4 linked regions of the Homo sapiens genome follow. The gene in region 1 interacts genetically with each later gene. Each region holds a gene or a part of one and is shown in the gene's direction. Other genes may lie near its edges.

The links. Genes that interact genetically often act in the same process or in processes that back each other up.
Region 2: changes in SEC24B (region 1) and TRAPPC10 together harm fitness less than expected from each alone (positive genetic interaction), as found in Homo sapiens cells (one large-scale study listed by BioGRID).
Region 3: changes in SEC24B (region 1) and RAB2A together harm fitness more than expected from each alone (negative genetic interaction), as found in Homo sapiens cells (one large-scale study listed by BioGRID).
Region 4: changes in SEC24B (region 1) and TRAPPC9 together harm fitness less than expected from each alone (positive genetic interaction), as found in Homo sapiens cells (one large-scale study listed by BioGRID).

What each region holds. Positions count from the first base shown.
Region 1 is NC_000004.12:109,440,032-109,444,049, forward strand, and holds part of SEC24B (protein transport protein Sec24B), read left to right. Parts: intron 1-4,018. UniProt on the Homo sapiens protein: Component of the coat protein complex II (COPII) which promotes the formation of transport vesicles from the endoplasmic reticulum (ER).
Region 2 is NC_000021.9:44,078,082-44,082,099, forward strand, and holds part of TRAPPC10 (trafficking protein particle complex subunit 10), read left to right. Parts: intron 1-1,482; coding exon 1,483-1,623; intron 1,624-1,933; coding exon 1,934-2,046; intron 2,047-4,018. UniProt on the Homo sapiens protein: Specific subunit of the TRAPP (transport protein particle) II complex, a highly conserved vesicle tethering complex that functions in late Golgi trafficking as a membrane tether.
Region 3 is NC_000008.11:60,586,260-60,590,277, forward strand, and holds part of RAB2A (ras-related protein Rab-2A), read left to right. Parts: intron 1-4,018.
Region 4 is NC_000008.11:140,436,954-140,440,971, reverse strand, and holds part of TRAPPC9 (trafficking protein particle complex subunit 9), read left to right. Parts: intron 1-1,774; coding exon 1,775-1,920; intron 1,921-4,018. UniProt on the Homo sapiens protein: Functions as an activator of NF-kappa-B through increased phosphorylation of the IKK complex. May function in neuronal cells differentiation. May play a role in vesicular transport from endoplasmic reticulum to Golgi.

The sequences.
Region 1 (4,018 bases):
ATCACTTGAACCTGGGAGGTGGAGGTCGTGGTGAGCCAAGATTGTGCCATTGCACTCCAGCCTGGGGGACAAGAGCGAGACTTCGTCGCAAAAAAAAAAAAAAGATCTTAAAGTATTCACTCCATATGTAAACAAGGGTCTTATATCTGGGTTTAATTTTTATTTTTTATTGCTATATATATTGCTTTAGTTGTTTGCAGTGTCTTTTCACTCCCTTCCTCTCCCCCCAAGTTTCTGGGATTGTAGCAGTAATTAATTTTGTAAACCATATTCATTGCCACCACTAGTATTTCATGTTACTTTATCTTTCCAATTCATCTGTAATTCCTGAAGTATTTTATGCTAAAGGTATTAGAATAATTTTCTTTCCTAGAAATGAGGCATCTTCATTGTCAGCATTGTTAGAAAAGATCATGTTATATATATTCAGCCCTGGAGAAGCTACTATTTTCAATAGGCTGAGCATACTCAGAATTGTCCAGAAGGAGTGGACTAGTGAAAAGGTTGTAGGCTTTGATATAGCCCAAATTTTTGTGGAGAAACTTACTTAACATGCTTCAGAGTATAATAATACCTTTCTTACAGAGTTGTTTATAGAACTACATTTAATAAGGTACTATTTTTAAAGTACTTAGCCCTAGAAGGAGCTTAGCAATTAGAGTCCCTCCCTTCCATTTTCTTCAGAACACCGTTTTATAAATTCTTCAGGTGGCAGAAACCATATGAGTTTTCTTCATCATATGCCCAGTAGTAGCAGCTTGTAATAGGCACTCAGTTAAGTGAACTTGGTTTCCTATTCGTTATTGCTTTTGAAGACTGGCCACTGACAGGAGTCTGTGTGCCAGCTCCCTCTCCCCTTTTTTGTATTTAAGGCTCAATCACTATTTTAGTCTTCTCTTTATTTTCTTCTGCTTTCCAGTCCTCCATCCCTTATGTCCGCAAATGCATTCTTGGAAGGTTTCTGGTAATAGGCCATCTATTTTAGCTAGTTTGCTTATGGAAAGGTAAGTTTAATGGGTTTTAAGTTTTCTAAAATTGTGTGCCAGAAGTCATTTGTAACAGGAACTGAGGAAAAGCAGGATGAAGTAGCGAGAGGGAGTGGTAAAATCATGTCTTGCCTAGCCAGTGGCCAAGTCTTAACTTGTTTTCCTTAGGATTTCTGATTAATGGATATTGTGAAATGAGGTATAAGCCTGGCTTTGGAACCAGCAATGCCTGGCTTCTTTGCTCCTTACCAACGATTTGAATTCGTATGAATTAGTGGGCTTTCATGGCCCTGTTTATTTGTATATAAAAGATGATAGTGATACTTCACAGAATTGTTTGAGAAGCATATCAGATTATATGTAGAAAAGCAAGGTATCTGGCATGTAGTAGATTCTGAACCAATATTGATTTTCTTTTCTTTCTGTATTTTGAGACAGGGCCTCACTTTGTCACCCAGGCTGGAGTGCAGTGATATGATCACAGCTCACTGCAGTCTTGACCTCCCCGGGTTAAGGTGATTCTCCCACTTCAGCCTCCTGAGTAGCTAGGACTACAGGGGCATGCCACTATGCCCAGCTAATTTTTGTATTTTTTGTAGAGATGGGGTTTCACCATGTTGCCCAGGCTCAAGTGATTCTCCTACCTTGGCCTCCCAGAGTGCTGGGATTACAGCGTGAGCCACCATGTGTGGCCTTGGTTGTCTTTTGGCCCCTCACTCATAGCACTCATTGTCGTGGTATCCAAGAAGGATAATTGATGTTGTAGCAGGAATAATCTATACTTAATGCAGTGAGATTTAATCCAGTTGTTTACATAGCCTGTGTCTGTAGGCTCTGTCCGCCAGCGGTGACTGGAACAGTTACCTTCATCCTCAGGTATATTTGCAGTTTATGGAATGTAGGAGAGAAAGAATACAAGAAAACATTTCTCTCAGAGCTTGGGAAGAAGCTCTATAACTGTTATCCTTGCATTATGATAACCTAGGATATCCAGATGTAATCTGAGACTCCTCATTTTTGAAATCACCAAGGTTTGTAATTGCCTATTGCCTTAGGGGTGTGTGGGTGTGCAAGCATGCACATTTTTTATGCCCATTAAAAATCTGTATTTTGGCATTGTTAGTGATACCTTATTGGCAGGGAGAGTATATTAAAATATTCAGTAATCAGTACTGTGTATACTGACCACTAAATGGATACCATCCTTCATACCAGAGCAGGATCCTATAAGCTTTCAGCTGTGCCAGGCATTACTCCTTCAGCTGCGGATTATGAGAAGGTTTGGGCTAGCATGGTGGGGTAAAGCAGGGGAATAGGACCATGGCTATGACTCATTACCAACTGATTCAGAGCTATTTTAACATTTTAACAAAGATAATTGTTAAAATGAATACCTGGGTGCATACTGACTGAATATTGGCCTATTTCTTTGTAATTGAGTGATGAATGAATTCAGTGATTACATTCTTCGATCTGATTCTACCTCAAAGTTAGTATGAATTTATCTTAGTAGGATAAAGGAACTTGTACTTTGCTGACCTTGATGTTTGTGTTCAGATAATGGAAACTGAAATCTGACTTTGATCTGACTGAAAAAAAAAGTTGGAATTCAATTCAGGAAAATATTAATGAAACAACTATTTTTAATATTAAAATGTGTCTCAGGGAGGGGGAATGATCATGCTATTATGGAAATCTCAGGAGTAGTCAAATTAGAGATGTGGTTTTTGTTTTCTCTCTTCATTTTTTTCTTTTTAAACAATAATTGTAGTATGGTGGAAATCATGACTGTTACAATCTTATTCAGGTAACTTGCTTTATTTTTGTGTTTTCCTGTATGTTTATATTACTCATTTATCAATTTTGCACATTTTTACTAGGTTTGGTAACCTTTTTATGTCAAATGTTTTTTTCCCTATAAAATGGCTGTATTGTAATATTAGAATAATCCAATGTTGATGCTTTATTTTCCTTGAAGTTTCTCCAACTTTATATTTATGGTAATATCTCTTAAGTGAGCTCTCAGTACCAGTTAGTCCTGTGGTATTTCCCTGCTCCATTCCCAGTGTCACATGCTCCCCTTTTCCCTCAAATTCTCAGTATCCTGTCTCTCTGCCTCCCTTTCCAATGGTGACCTTACTTATTTTACTAAGAAATTGAAAGCAATCTGACAATCTGAAGATAAAGTATTAATCTTCTGCCACCAAATCTGTCAGTCTTCCTGCATATTATTCTTGTGTTATCTGAGACAAATTCAGATTATTTGGGTACAGAATTCTGTTCCCTCTCTTTTAAGAACTTTGTCCCTCCGATTATCTCATTTACCATCAATTTTGATCTTAAACACCTGAACCTTATTTTATGCAATGCATATGTAATCCTAACAGTTATATATAACTTTTATTTTAGAGACGAGATCTCACTGTGTTGCCTGGGATGGTCTCAAACTCCTAGGCTCAAGTGACCCTCCAACCTCTGCCTCCCAGAGTGCTGGGATTACAGGCATGAACCACCATGCCTGGCCTATAAATTTAATTTACAATTCCTAGCAAATATTTATGTAGCTCCTCTTTACATAACATTTTGTGCTAGATACTCTGGGCATACAAATGTGAATGTTCTCTGCACTCCAGGAGTTCTGTACCCCTCAGTAAAAGAGGAGAGGACTGTCAGCACTGAACATGTGTTTCCTTCATAAGGCCTGTGAGAAGGGTGCCCAGAGTTTTGAAGAGGAAACAATTCTTTTTGGTTAAAGTAATAGGGAATCTTAAGGGAGGAAGTTAGAACTTCAGCTATATCTAAAATGATGGACACATTTTGAATTGTCAGGTAAAAATGCATGAATCAAAGGTAAGGAATTTAAAAAACGTACTCTGAGCAGTGCAGGGGTACAAGGGAGAGAGAGTAATGAAAGAATGGTTTGGGCCCGGTGTGGTGGCTCATGCCTGTAATCCCAGCACTTTGGGAGGCTGAGGTGGGTGGATCACCTGAGGTCAGGAGTTCGAGACCAGCCTGGCCAACGTGGTAAAAAC
Region 2 (4,018 bases), on another chromosome or scaffold:
TTGGCATATAGATTCTTACATATTTTGTTATATAGCATTTCTCTAATTTTATCAAGTATTAAGAGGACTGAAAAACCTCAAGGCCATTGATGTAAAGCTACTGCATGTGTCAGGTTCATGAAAGAGGGATGATCTAGGGATGACTGGAAGAAGGTGTGTACAAAGACTGCAGGGTTTCCATTCCAGCTCCAGCTTTGAAGTTTGATTCCAGAAAAACTCAAAATTTAGCGTATTTCTGGTGTGTTTCATAAAATCAGACTATCAAAGAGAAGAAACCCCAGTGGGTCATGTGGTTACCATTTCAGAGTACTCAAAGGAGATACAAGCTATAAGGAAAAAGATGCTTGTTTTCATTTTCTAAAAAAAAAAAAAAAAAAAGTGATTGAAATGAGATCTTGAAATCTGTACTCAAGTGATTTCATTAGGTGAAGCAAGAAATGAGAATTGATTTGAACTGATGTGAATTGGCTGGAAAGGGATTCTTAGATCAGCTAAGTGAACTTTCTGGTTTTCCGGATGTGGTTGGAGCAGCTTTGCCGATTACCCACTGGTTAACAGCAGAGTCACAGCTAGAATGTAGCTCTCTTGAACTTCCATGCTGTGTATCTGAAGAGGAAGGTGCTCCTTAAGGAAGCAGAGAGGCTTCTCGGGAAAGGGGAGGGGATCCTTGTTGCTCCTGAGGCTTTGACAAGCCCTTATTAATTTGCATTTTAAAGGCAGGCAAGGCCGCACACACCAGTAGTCCCAGCTACAGTGGAGGAGGCTGAGGCGGGAGGATCACTTGAGCTGAGGAGTTTGAGACTGCAGTGAGCTATGATCACACCACTGTATTCCAGCCTGAGTGACAGAGCAAGACCCCATCTTTAAAAAAAACAGTTGTGCTTTAAACTTTGCTTTGGGGGCCAAGTGTGGCTATTTTAATTCTCCGGCGTTCTCTGGAAGCTGGATCCTGTGGAGTGCTCTTTGCCTGAGTTTCCAAGTGGCTCTGTGCTCCCTTCCGCTTGCGCCCTGTAGACTGCTTCTGTGTTTCTGTGCCTTTAGTAGGTAGTGTAGACCCATACTTGGACTTCCTGGCTTCATTGCTGACTAGCAGTGTACTTGTGGACAAGCCCTTCCTTCACCTTCTCTTAGCCTTGGCCCTCTTGCCTGTCAGCTTGAGATCATGAATGATAGGCTCACTTTCTTATCCTGAGATTCAGCTATGAAAGTTCCTCGACATGTGTATAAAGCCAGACCAACGATGTGTTGTGCTCTTATCACCACACGCTCATTTCTCAGATCTTTGCCTGGGAGTCTAATTATGTCGTCCTGAGTAGGTACTCTTTCTCACGGAGTGGGGTGGGTGGAAAAGGGCTATCTAGAGATGTTGAGTCTGTCCTGGCATGGGGTCTGGAGGATGGAGGCCAAAGCGGGAGAGATGGGGTTTCAGTGTGTTGATTATCCCTAGCTGTAATGAAAGCTACTGTTTGTTGACTTTGCAAGGAGGAAAAAGGCTCCACAAAAGGCAGAAATCTATCTTCAAGGAGCACTGAAAAACTACCTGGCTGAGGGCTGGGCACTCCCCATCACACACACAAGGAAGCAGCTGGCCGAATGTCAAAAGCACCTTGGACAAATTGAAAAGTATCCTTTAATGTTTTCATGAAGCAGGAAAATTATTTTCTGTTTATACGGCAACATTGCCCACAATCAATGTTTCATTCACACCTATTATTAAGGAGAGAAAAGTCCTAACTTATACATATGTATTGTATAGAAAATGAATGAAATGTCTAGTCGATTTTTTATAATCTAATTTTGAGCCCTAGTAACTTAAAAAAAAAAAGCCCTTTGGCTTTTGAAGCCTCTGTGAAGGCCGTAGGAGACTTTGCATCCACTTCCCCCCGCACTCCTAAGTATGAGCCTCTCCACGCTCCTTACCTCTCCGCTCCAGCTACCTGCAGACCAGCAGCCTCTTAGCCAGTGACCACCACCTCACTGAAGAGGAGCGCAAGCACTTCTGCCAGGAGATACTTGACTTTGCCAGCCAGCCGTCAGACAGCCCAGGTAAGACCAGTTCTTACAACTTGACTAGGAATATTTTCAAATATTACAGAAGTAAAAAAGAATACAAGATATACCAACCACTTACAGTAAACAGTTGCTAACATTTTGCTGTGTAGCTGACATGTATCTATGTCTTTCACCTGACTTTTTTTTTTATTTTTGCTTTAAGTCAAACTCTAGACCACATTAGATCTTCTAAAAATAAGGACAGTCTCTTAACCACACCCAAAGAATTAATAAGGTTCTAATATCATCTGCTAAGTAGGCCATATTCATATTTCCCTAATTGTCTTAAAGTATTTTATAAATCATTTTTAATGGAGTCCAACAGGATATCACATATTACATGTGGTTGTTAGATCTCAGTTCTCTTTTAATGTAAAAAAAGTTCTTCCCATCTCTTTTTCTTCTTCTTCTTTTTTTTTTTTGAGACAGAGTCTCGCTCTGTTGTCCAGGCTGTAGTGCAATGGTGCCATCTCAGCTCACCACAACCTCCGTCTCCCGGGTTCAAGCAATTCTCCTGCCTCAGCCTCCCAAGTAGCTGGGGTTACGTGCGCCCGCCACCATGCCCTGCTAATTTTTTGTATTTTTAGTAGAGACAGTGTTTTGCTCTGTTGGCCAGGCTGGTCTCAGACTCCTGACCTCAGGTGATCCACCCACCTCAGCCTCCCAAAGGGCTGGGATTACAGATGTGAGCCACCGCACCCAGTCTTTTTCTTCATTTTTTAAGATGGTGCTTTTTTTTTTTTTTAAAATGTAACAGCATTATTGTGATATTCACAAACCATGTAATTCACTCATTTGAAGTTTATAATTCAATGGCTTTTAGTCTGTTTCAGGAATATGTGCAACCATTACCACAGTCAATATTATTGTTCTTTTTTTTTTTCTTTTTTTTTTTTTTTTTTTTGACTATCTTGCTCTCTTGCCTGGGCTGGAGTGCAGTGGCACGATCCCAGCTCACTGTAGCCTCAACCTTCTGGAGTCAAGAGATCCTCTTACTTTGGCTTCCTGAGTGGCAGGGACCACAGGTGTGGGCCACCACACCCAGCTATTTTTTTTCTTCTCTGTCTCCCAGGTTGGAGTGCAGTGGCATGATTGTAGCCCACTGCAACCTCTGCTTTTTGGGCTCAATTGCTCCTCCCACCTCCACCTCCTGTGTAGCTTGGACTACAGGAGCATACCACCATGCCTGGCTAATTTTTGTATTTTTAGTAGAGATGGTTTTGCCATATTGCCCAGGCTGGTCTTTAACTCCTGAGCTCAAGGAATCTACACACCTCGGTCTCCCAAAGTGCTGGAATTACAGATGTGAGCCACCATGCCTGGCCACCACAGTCAATTTTAAAACATATTTATCACCCTAAAAAGAAACCCCATACTGTAATCCCCAAAGTGCTGGGATTACAGGCGTGAGCCACCACGCTGGGCCCCAGATGCTTGTAAGTGAATACACCCCAGCAGTCAATAACCACATCAACCTGACCCTGAAACTTCTAGGAACTTCTGCCTGCCCTGGGAGGCCGGGGCAGGCAGATCACTTGAGGTCAGGAGTTTGAGACCAGCCTGGGCAACATGGCGAAACCCTGTCTCTACAAAAAATTAGCCAGGTGTGGTGGCGGGCACCTGTAGTCCCAGCTACCCAGGAGGCTGAGGTAGGAGGATCGCTTGAGCCCAGGAGAACTGGGCTGTAGTGAGCCAAGATGGTGCCACTATACTATAGCCTGGGCGACAGAGCGAGACCCTGTCTCAAAGAAAGGGGGACAACAAAAGATCCATGTGGGTGGGTTTCTCGGGAGCATCATGACGTTAGTCTGTGGAGTCTTTAACGCGCCCAAGCTGACTGTTGGTAGAGCCGTGACCACATCTGCTGCTGCTTTGTATTTGAGACTATTTGAGTTGTGATGTTCCTGCCAACGTTCCTTGGTATCTCTATACGAATAAAATATTCCACAATCGTTTACTGTTTCTC
Region 3 (4,018 bases), on another chromosome or scaffold:
GTACTCCAGCCTGAGCAACAAAGCAAGACCTTGTCTCAAAAAAAAAAAGAAAATAGCCTAATTTTTTTGCCTTAAGAAACTAGAATAAGAGCAAATCAAAGTTAAGGAAAGCCTCCTGCCCGTTAAAAAAAAAAGAGAGAGAGAAAACCAATGAAACCAAAAGCTAATTCTTCAGAAGATAAAATAAAATAGATACTGATCAGGAAAAAGACAAACATTAGCAATATCAGGAAAGAAAGGTTGACATCACTATAGATAAAAAAAAGAGAGAGAATATTGTAAACAGACTAAATAAATGAAGAGATATAACCATGTTCATGGATTGTAAAACTAAATATAAGATGTCTTCTCAAATTTATCTAAAAATTCATTGAAGGCCAGGTACAATGGCTCACATCTGTAATCCCAGCACTTTGGGAGGCCAAGGCAGGAGCATCACATGAGGCAAGGAGTTCAAGACCAGCCTGAGAATGTAGCAAGACCCTATCTCTACAAAAAATAAAATAATAATTAAAAAAAACTAGCTAGGCATGCTGGCACACGCCTTTAGCTCTACTTACTCAGGAAGCAGAGGTGAGAGGATCACTTGAATCCAGGAGCTCAAGGTTGCAGTGAGCTATGATTGTGCCACCTGCACTCCAGCCTGGGCAAAAGAGCAAGACTCTGTCTCCAAGAAAAAAAAAAAAAAAAAAAGATTTATTGTAACCCTAATCAAACTATCAAACATTGGCAGACTTTTTTGGGAGGGTAGATATTGACAAGCTGACTTTAAAGTTTATGTGCAAAGGCCACGGAATAGCCAAATCAACTTTGACAAAGAGGCACAATATTGGAGAGAATTTACTATTCTACAAATTTTAAGATTTATTATACTATAGTCAATTTACTATTGTTTGGCATAAGCAGACATAGATCAGTAGAGCCGAATAAGAAGTTCCAGAAGTAGATTCATATATATATGATATATTAATTTTTTGACAGAGATGCTAATTTAGTTGAAGAAGGGGTAATCTTTTTCATCAAATGGTGCTGAAACAGTTAATAGTCATATGTAAAAATATGAACCTCAACTGTTACATTATACCATTTACAAAAATTAACTGGAAGTGGATCATAGACCTAAGTGTGAGAGCTAAAACTACTTAAAATTTCTAAAAGAAAACAAATTGTAGTGACCCTGTTTTGGCAAACATTTCTTAAATGGGACAGAGAAAAGCATGAACTTATAGTTCAGAAAAAAAATCAATAAATTGTTCTTTAACTGAATTTAAAACTTTTGTTCTTCAAAAGACGGTTACACTATTATACAACATCGTGACATGGTTAATGATGATATAGTGCATTCTGGAAAAATGCTGAAAGAGTGGATGTTAAGTGTTCTCACCACAAAAAACGATAACTGTGAGATAATGCAAATTAGCTAGATTAACCATTCCACAGTGTATATATACTTTAAAACAATATGTTGTACATGATAAATATATGCAATTTTACCTATCAATTTAAATAAATAAATTTGAAGAAAAACGGTTACAAAAATGAAAAGACAAGCTACAGACTAGCAGAAAATATTTGTGAAAAATGTATCTGACAAAGGATTTATATCTAGAATATATGAAGAATGCTTATAATTCATTAATAAGAAGACATCCACTTTTTAAAAATGATCTAAAGATTTGAACCAGCAATTACTACAGAAGATATACTACTGATGGGAACGTAAAATGATACAATCACTTTGGAAAACAATTTGGTAGTTTCTTTAGAAATTAAAAGGCCGAGGCGGGAGGATTGCTTCAGCCTAGGAGTTTGAGACCAGCCTGGGCAATGTAGGGAGACTTCTTCTATACAAAAATAAGAAATTTTTTAAAAAAGTAGCTGAACATGGTGGTACATACTTGTAGTCCCAGCTACTCCAGAGGCTGAGGTGGTAGGATCACTTAAGCCTGAGAGGTCAAGGCTGCAGTGAGCCATGATCATGCCACTGTATTCCAGCCTAGGCCACAGAGCAAGACCCTGTCTCAAAAAAAAGAAATAAAGCACACATCTATATTTCCTAGCCACTTTACTCCCAGATGTTTACCCAACATAAATATGTCTTCATGTGTCCACAGAATTATGTACAAATATTCATACCAGCTTTATTTCTAATAGCCCCAAACTGGAAACAACCCAAATATCAATTAACAGATGAATCGAAAAATAGTGATACAGCATTACAACAGACTACAACTCAGCTATAAAGAGGAATGAACTATTGATACATGCAGCAAAATGGATGATTCTCAAAATAATTACAGAGTGAAAAAACTCAGACCAAAAATACCATGTGATTACATTTATATAAAAATCCTAGTAAATGTGTACTAATCTGTAGTGGCAGAAAGCAGATCATCAGCTGCCTAGGGTGCAGGGGCAAGAAGGGATGGATTACAATGGAGTATGAGGAAACTTTTGGGAGACTGATGGCTTCACGGGCTTACATATCTTAAAACTCAACAAATTTTGCATTTAAGTACAACTTCTTTTATGTCTGTTACACCTCAAAAAAGCTATAATGTAAAACATCGTTATACTGTATAGATTTTAGAGTGTTGTTTTAATAGAAATTGAGATTTGCTATTAAGAGAAAATATTACCTAAGTGATATTTACATTATAAAAAGCTAAACATTGTTTACTTCTTTGTGTAGAGAAGAAACTATTATCATATTCTCTGAAGGCCTTTCTTGGGTATTCTTTTCCACATTTAAATCATCTCACTAAACCTTTTTAAGGTTATAAAGCTATTGGAGGGAAGTTTTAGTCTTTCTATGATGGAAATAGTTATTCTGTCATTCAAGGTATGAAATAATAAGAGGAGAATACTTGGAAAATAAAGAGAATTTTTATCCTTTTATTTTACCAATTTTTTCCTTGTGGCTGAAACATGATGAGTGACAGCTTACTGGTGGCTTAAATTTGGTCACCGACCACTAGGAGCTGATAGTTCAAATGTGAGAAGAAATAAACAAAGCATAGTATGTAAACGAGATGTTTCTGATGATCGTAGGTGGGTGACCTTTAAAATCAGGAGTATAACGAACAAGAAAGAACAGAGAGAAATAAATGAGATGATTATTTTTAGATGAATTGAACTGTGGATAGACATCAAAACAGGGAATAAGCAATTTTTGAATTAGACGCATTAAGCAGTAGGGAGCCAGTGAAGGGCAGTGACCTAGTCAGAGCAACAGATGACACAAATTTTTCTTACTATGGCATTTTATTAATAAATTGGTTATATAAGAAATAGGAAGCAGAGATTTAAAAAATGAAAGTTTTTTAATAGTGTAAGGGTTGTAATGCAAACCCTAAACAAAAAGGGGCCATAAATTAAAAGAAAGATACTTAAGTAACCTAAGCAACTTAAGTGGGATTCAGAGGGAGTGAACTAAGACAACAATATGATGTAATGCCTGGAAAACTGAGGTATTTTTAAAACTTTGCACTAAGTATATCGTCAAGTACTATGGCTTTTGAGTTTTTTGATTTGACCTATAGTAAGAAATGTATTTTACATCATGACCTAGTAAATAAATTGTGTATACACCTACACATATAACAAAATATTCGTAAATTATACCTTTATACGTAAGTTCCATGAAACAGTAGATGGAACTTATGTATATAGGTGATAGACTCTGATATTTTATATTGTTTCTTTTTTTTTTCCCTTCCCAAGATGGAGTCTCACTCTGTCGCCCAGGCTGGAGTGCAGTGGCGCGATCTCTGCTCACTGCAACCTCCGCCTCCCAGGTTCAAGCAATTCTCCCGCCTCAGTCTCCTGAGTAGCTGGGATTACAGGCACCCACCATCATACCCAGCTAATTTTTGTATTTTTGTAGAGACGGGGTTTCACCATGTTGGCCAGGCTGGTCTTGAACTCCTAACCTGAGGTGATCCACCCGCCTTGCCTCCCAAAGTGCCGTAATTACAGGTGTGAGCCACCGCACCCGGCCTATTGTTTCTTTTTTTAA
Region 4 (4,018 bases), on another chromosome or scaffold:
TAACAGTGTTCTAGAAACACATCAAGGACACTTAACCCAAAGTGCAGAGGTTGGAGTCAGGGAAGGCTTCCTTGAGAACCTGGTCATTGAGATGAGCCTAAAAGAGAGTGGAAGTTGTGAGGCGGATAGAGCCTGAGGTTGGGGGACTTCAGCGTTGCAGCAAGGTTGCCTGTGGAGTGCAAAGCCACAGTGGTAGGAGGGGAAGCCAGAGCCGTGGGAGGGGCTAGCTATGGACTGCATGCCTCTCCCTACGACTGAATTGAGCATCCTGTGAAAGGTTTGCAGTGGGGGAGGGACACAGACTGATTTGTGCTTTGGGAAGGACACTCTGGCTGTGTGTGTATAGAAGCAATGAAGGGGAAGGGGGTGCAGGGTGAGGAGTCAGAGACTAGGCGGAGGCTGCTGAGGTGACTGCTGTTGGGATGGGAAGAGCAGCTCAGATGCCTTTCTTTTCTTTTCTTTTTTTTTTGGGAGTCTCACCCTGTCCCCCAGGCTGGAGTGCAGTGGCATGATCTCGGCTCACTGCAACCTCCGCCTCCCGGGTTCAAGTGATTCTCCTGCCTCAGCCTCCTGAGTAGCTGGGACTACAGGCGCGTGCCACCACGCCCGGCTAATTTTTTGTATTTTTAGTAGAGATGGGGTTTCACCGTGTTAGCCAGGATGGTCTCGATCTCCTGACCTTGTGATCCGCCCGCCTCGGTCTCCCAAAGTGCTGGGATTACAGGCGTGAGCCACTGCACCCTGCTAGATGCTGTATTTTCTTATGGGGAGGGTCTGTTAGCAGGGGCCATCCTGACACTGCCTTGTGGCCAGGAAGGAGACAAACGAAGGCTGGCGTTTCTTTTTCTTTCTGCGTCTGCCTTACGTTGTGATCTTTGTTTAAAACTTATTCAGAATGGAAATGCTAAATTCCAGAGTAACAAAGAGTTTGTTGAACTCGTTAGAGTTACACATGATAGGATTTAACATTGTATTGAGATGTGTCAATAACATTCATTTACTTAGAAACGTCACATCTTCTGGATTTCCAGAGGAGTTTTATTCTTGATAAGTTTGCTTTCTTGATGAGGGAAAGTTTAATCCAGCTGCAGTTTTTCTTTAAAAAAAAAATCATCTATCTTAAGAAATATAACATTTAAAGGTTAGATGTATTTAAAAATGATAAAAGGAATACTTTGGTACAGTTTCTTTGGTTTCTGAGTTGATTAGGGACTCAGAAGCCTTTGCATTATTTAGTGGTATATCCTTGCCAATATTTAAAGAGCTGTTAGTGAGCACCCCAGGCCCTGCTCTCTGGAAGCTTTCCTAAAGCTTGCCCTGAAATAGCGAGGATGAACGTCTTGTTTGCTAAAGCCAAATGGTTGGCTAATAAGACTCAGCATAGCTGTCTTTATAAAATAATAAGAGGTTTGATGTTAAGAAGTGGAAGATAATTGATTTTTTTAAAAAGCTGAAACATAAACTTCCTTATGCTAATGTTACAACTGGAAAATCTAAAAAGAAAAATCCAACTGTAACATTGCCTACGTGAAAGACATGGTAGAAGTCCTTACGTACCGATCACCTTTAAACAAATTGCTTGGCAGTACATTTTTGAAATTAAGACCACTCCAGCTCACATAACTGGCAATGATTATTGCTGACTTAAAATTATAGAGCCTACAGTTGCCTTCTTAGCATTTTTAGTAGTGAGAGAATTGAATAGTGCTTAGTCAGAGTGCTTTCTGGGTGGGAGTTGTATAGTAATAAAGATACATTTTCATGTATTTTCTAGACATTACAAGAAGCGGTGCCAAGGCCGCATGCGGAAGCACGTGGGGGACCTGTGCCTGCAGGCAGGGATGCTGCAGGACTCCCTGGTGCATTACCACATGTCGGTGGAGCTGCTGCGTTCTGTGAATGACTTTCTGTGGCTTGGAGGTAAGATGAGCTGATGAAGATGATCTGATATGTAATTGTTTCAACTGTTAATTAAAATGAGAGGCTGGGTGCGGTGGCTCACGCCTGTAATCCCAGCACTTTGGGAGGCTACGGCAGGCCAAATATGAGGTCAAGAGATTGAGACCATCCTGGCCAACATGGTGAAACCACGTCTCTACTAAAAATACAAAAATTAGCTGGGCGTGGTGGCACGCGCCTATAGTCCCAGCTACTCGGGAGGCGGAGGCAGCAGAATTTCTTGAACCAGGAGGCAGAAGTTGCAGTGAGCAGAGGTTGCACAACTGCACTCCAGCCTGGCAACAGAGCGAGACTCCATCTCAAAAAAAAATAAAATAAAATAAAAAAAGAAATGAGAGGAAACGGCAGAAGAAATTCCCCAAAAAGAAGGGATGAGGGAGGAAAAGCAGCCAGCCTGTGCTGGTTGCCACGAGCAGTGGCCTGGGATGCTTCCCTGCTGTATCTGCTGCCCTCCTCCCACCCTGCCATGCGTCCTCTGAAGGAGGCCCTGCCCACACTTTCCCTTTTCCTCTGTTCTTAGTATACCTTGCCCTCTGCTTTGGATGCCGTTCCCCATGATCTTCACCTCTTAGACTCCTCCCTCAAAACCTCCTCCATGTGTCACATGATGAATGGATAAACGAAATGTGGTATGGGCATACAGCGGAATATTATTCAGCCATGAAAAGGAGTGAAATTGTGATACCACTGCAGCACGGATGAACCTTGACAACTTTGTGCTAAGTGAGAGAAGGCAGGCATGAAAAAGGCCGCAGATTGTATGATTCTATATATATGAAGTGGCTAGAATAGGCAAATCTATAGAAGCAGAAAGTAGACAACTGGTTCTAGGGGCTGGGAGGAGGGGGAATGGGAAGTGACAGTTAACGGGCATAAGGTTTCTTTCTGGGGTGATGAAAATGTTCCAGAGTCAGTTAGTGGTGATGGTTGCACAGTTGTGAATATACTAAAAACTGCTGACTTGCACACTTTAAGTGGGTGAATTATATGGTATGTGAACTCTATGTCAATCTTAAAAATTAAAAGAAAGGGAAGAAGAAATCCTACTTCAAAGCACAGCCATCTCTGATCCCCCGCAGCAGTCGGCAGAGCGGGTGCCCTGCCTGAGATGTTGCTGACACTTCGTGGTGGAATCGGATGTCTGTGTGTGGTCTTCCCTTTGGGGACTGCGCCTCCTGGAGGTGGTCCTGGGAGGATGGACTGGCTGAGTCCATTGTGTGGGTAAGGACTAAAACAGGGTTCTTTCGTTGAGGTTGACAGTTTAGCAAGGACACCTGTCAGCCACTTATGATAATACAAGTCGGAATGAAGTAATGAGGTGAGTTCTGTAACAGAAGTTTAACGAGGTGCCGTAGAACATATTAAATATAACAAATTCTTTCGTTCTTGGGGACGGAGTCTCGCTCTGTTGCCCAGGCTGGAGTGCAGTGGCATGATCTTGGCTCACTGCAATCTCCGCCTCCTGGGTTCAAGCGATTCTCCTGCCTCAGCCTTCCGAGTAGCTGGGACTTACAGGCATGCACTACCACACCCGGCTAAATTTTCTATTTTTAGTAGAGACGGGGTTTTGCGATGTTGGCCGAGCTGCTCTTGAACTCGACCTCAGCTGATATGCCTGCCTTGGCCTCCCAGAGTGCTGGGATTACAGGCATAAGCCACTGTGCCCAGCCAAATATAAGAAATACTTCAAACGGCCAGGCATGGTGGCTCATGCCTGTAATCCCAACACTTCTACAAAAAATAAAAAATAAAAAAATCTTACTTCACCTCACTTCTACAAAACAAAATTAAAAAACATTAACTGGGTGGAGACCAGCCTGAGCAACATAGGGAGACCTCACTTCTACCAAAATAAAATAAAATAAAATAAAATAAAAAGACATTAGCTGGGCTTGGTGGTCTGTGCCTGTAGTCCCAGCTACTTGTGAGGGTGAGGCAGGAGGATCGCTTGGGCTCAGGAGGTCAAGGCTGCAGTGAGCCACGATCGCACCACTGCACTCCATCCTGAGCAAGAGTGAGACTTTGTCTCTTAAGAAAAAACCAAAATAAAACTTAAAAT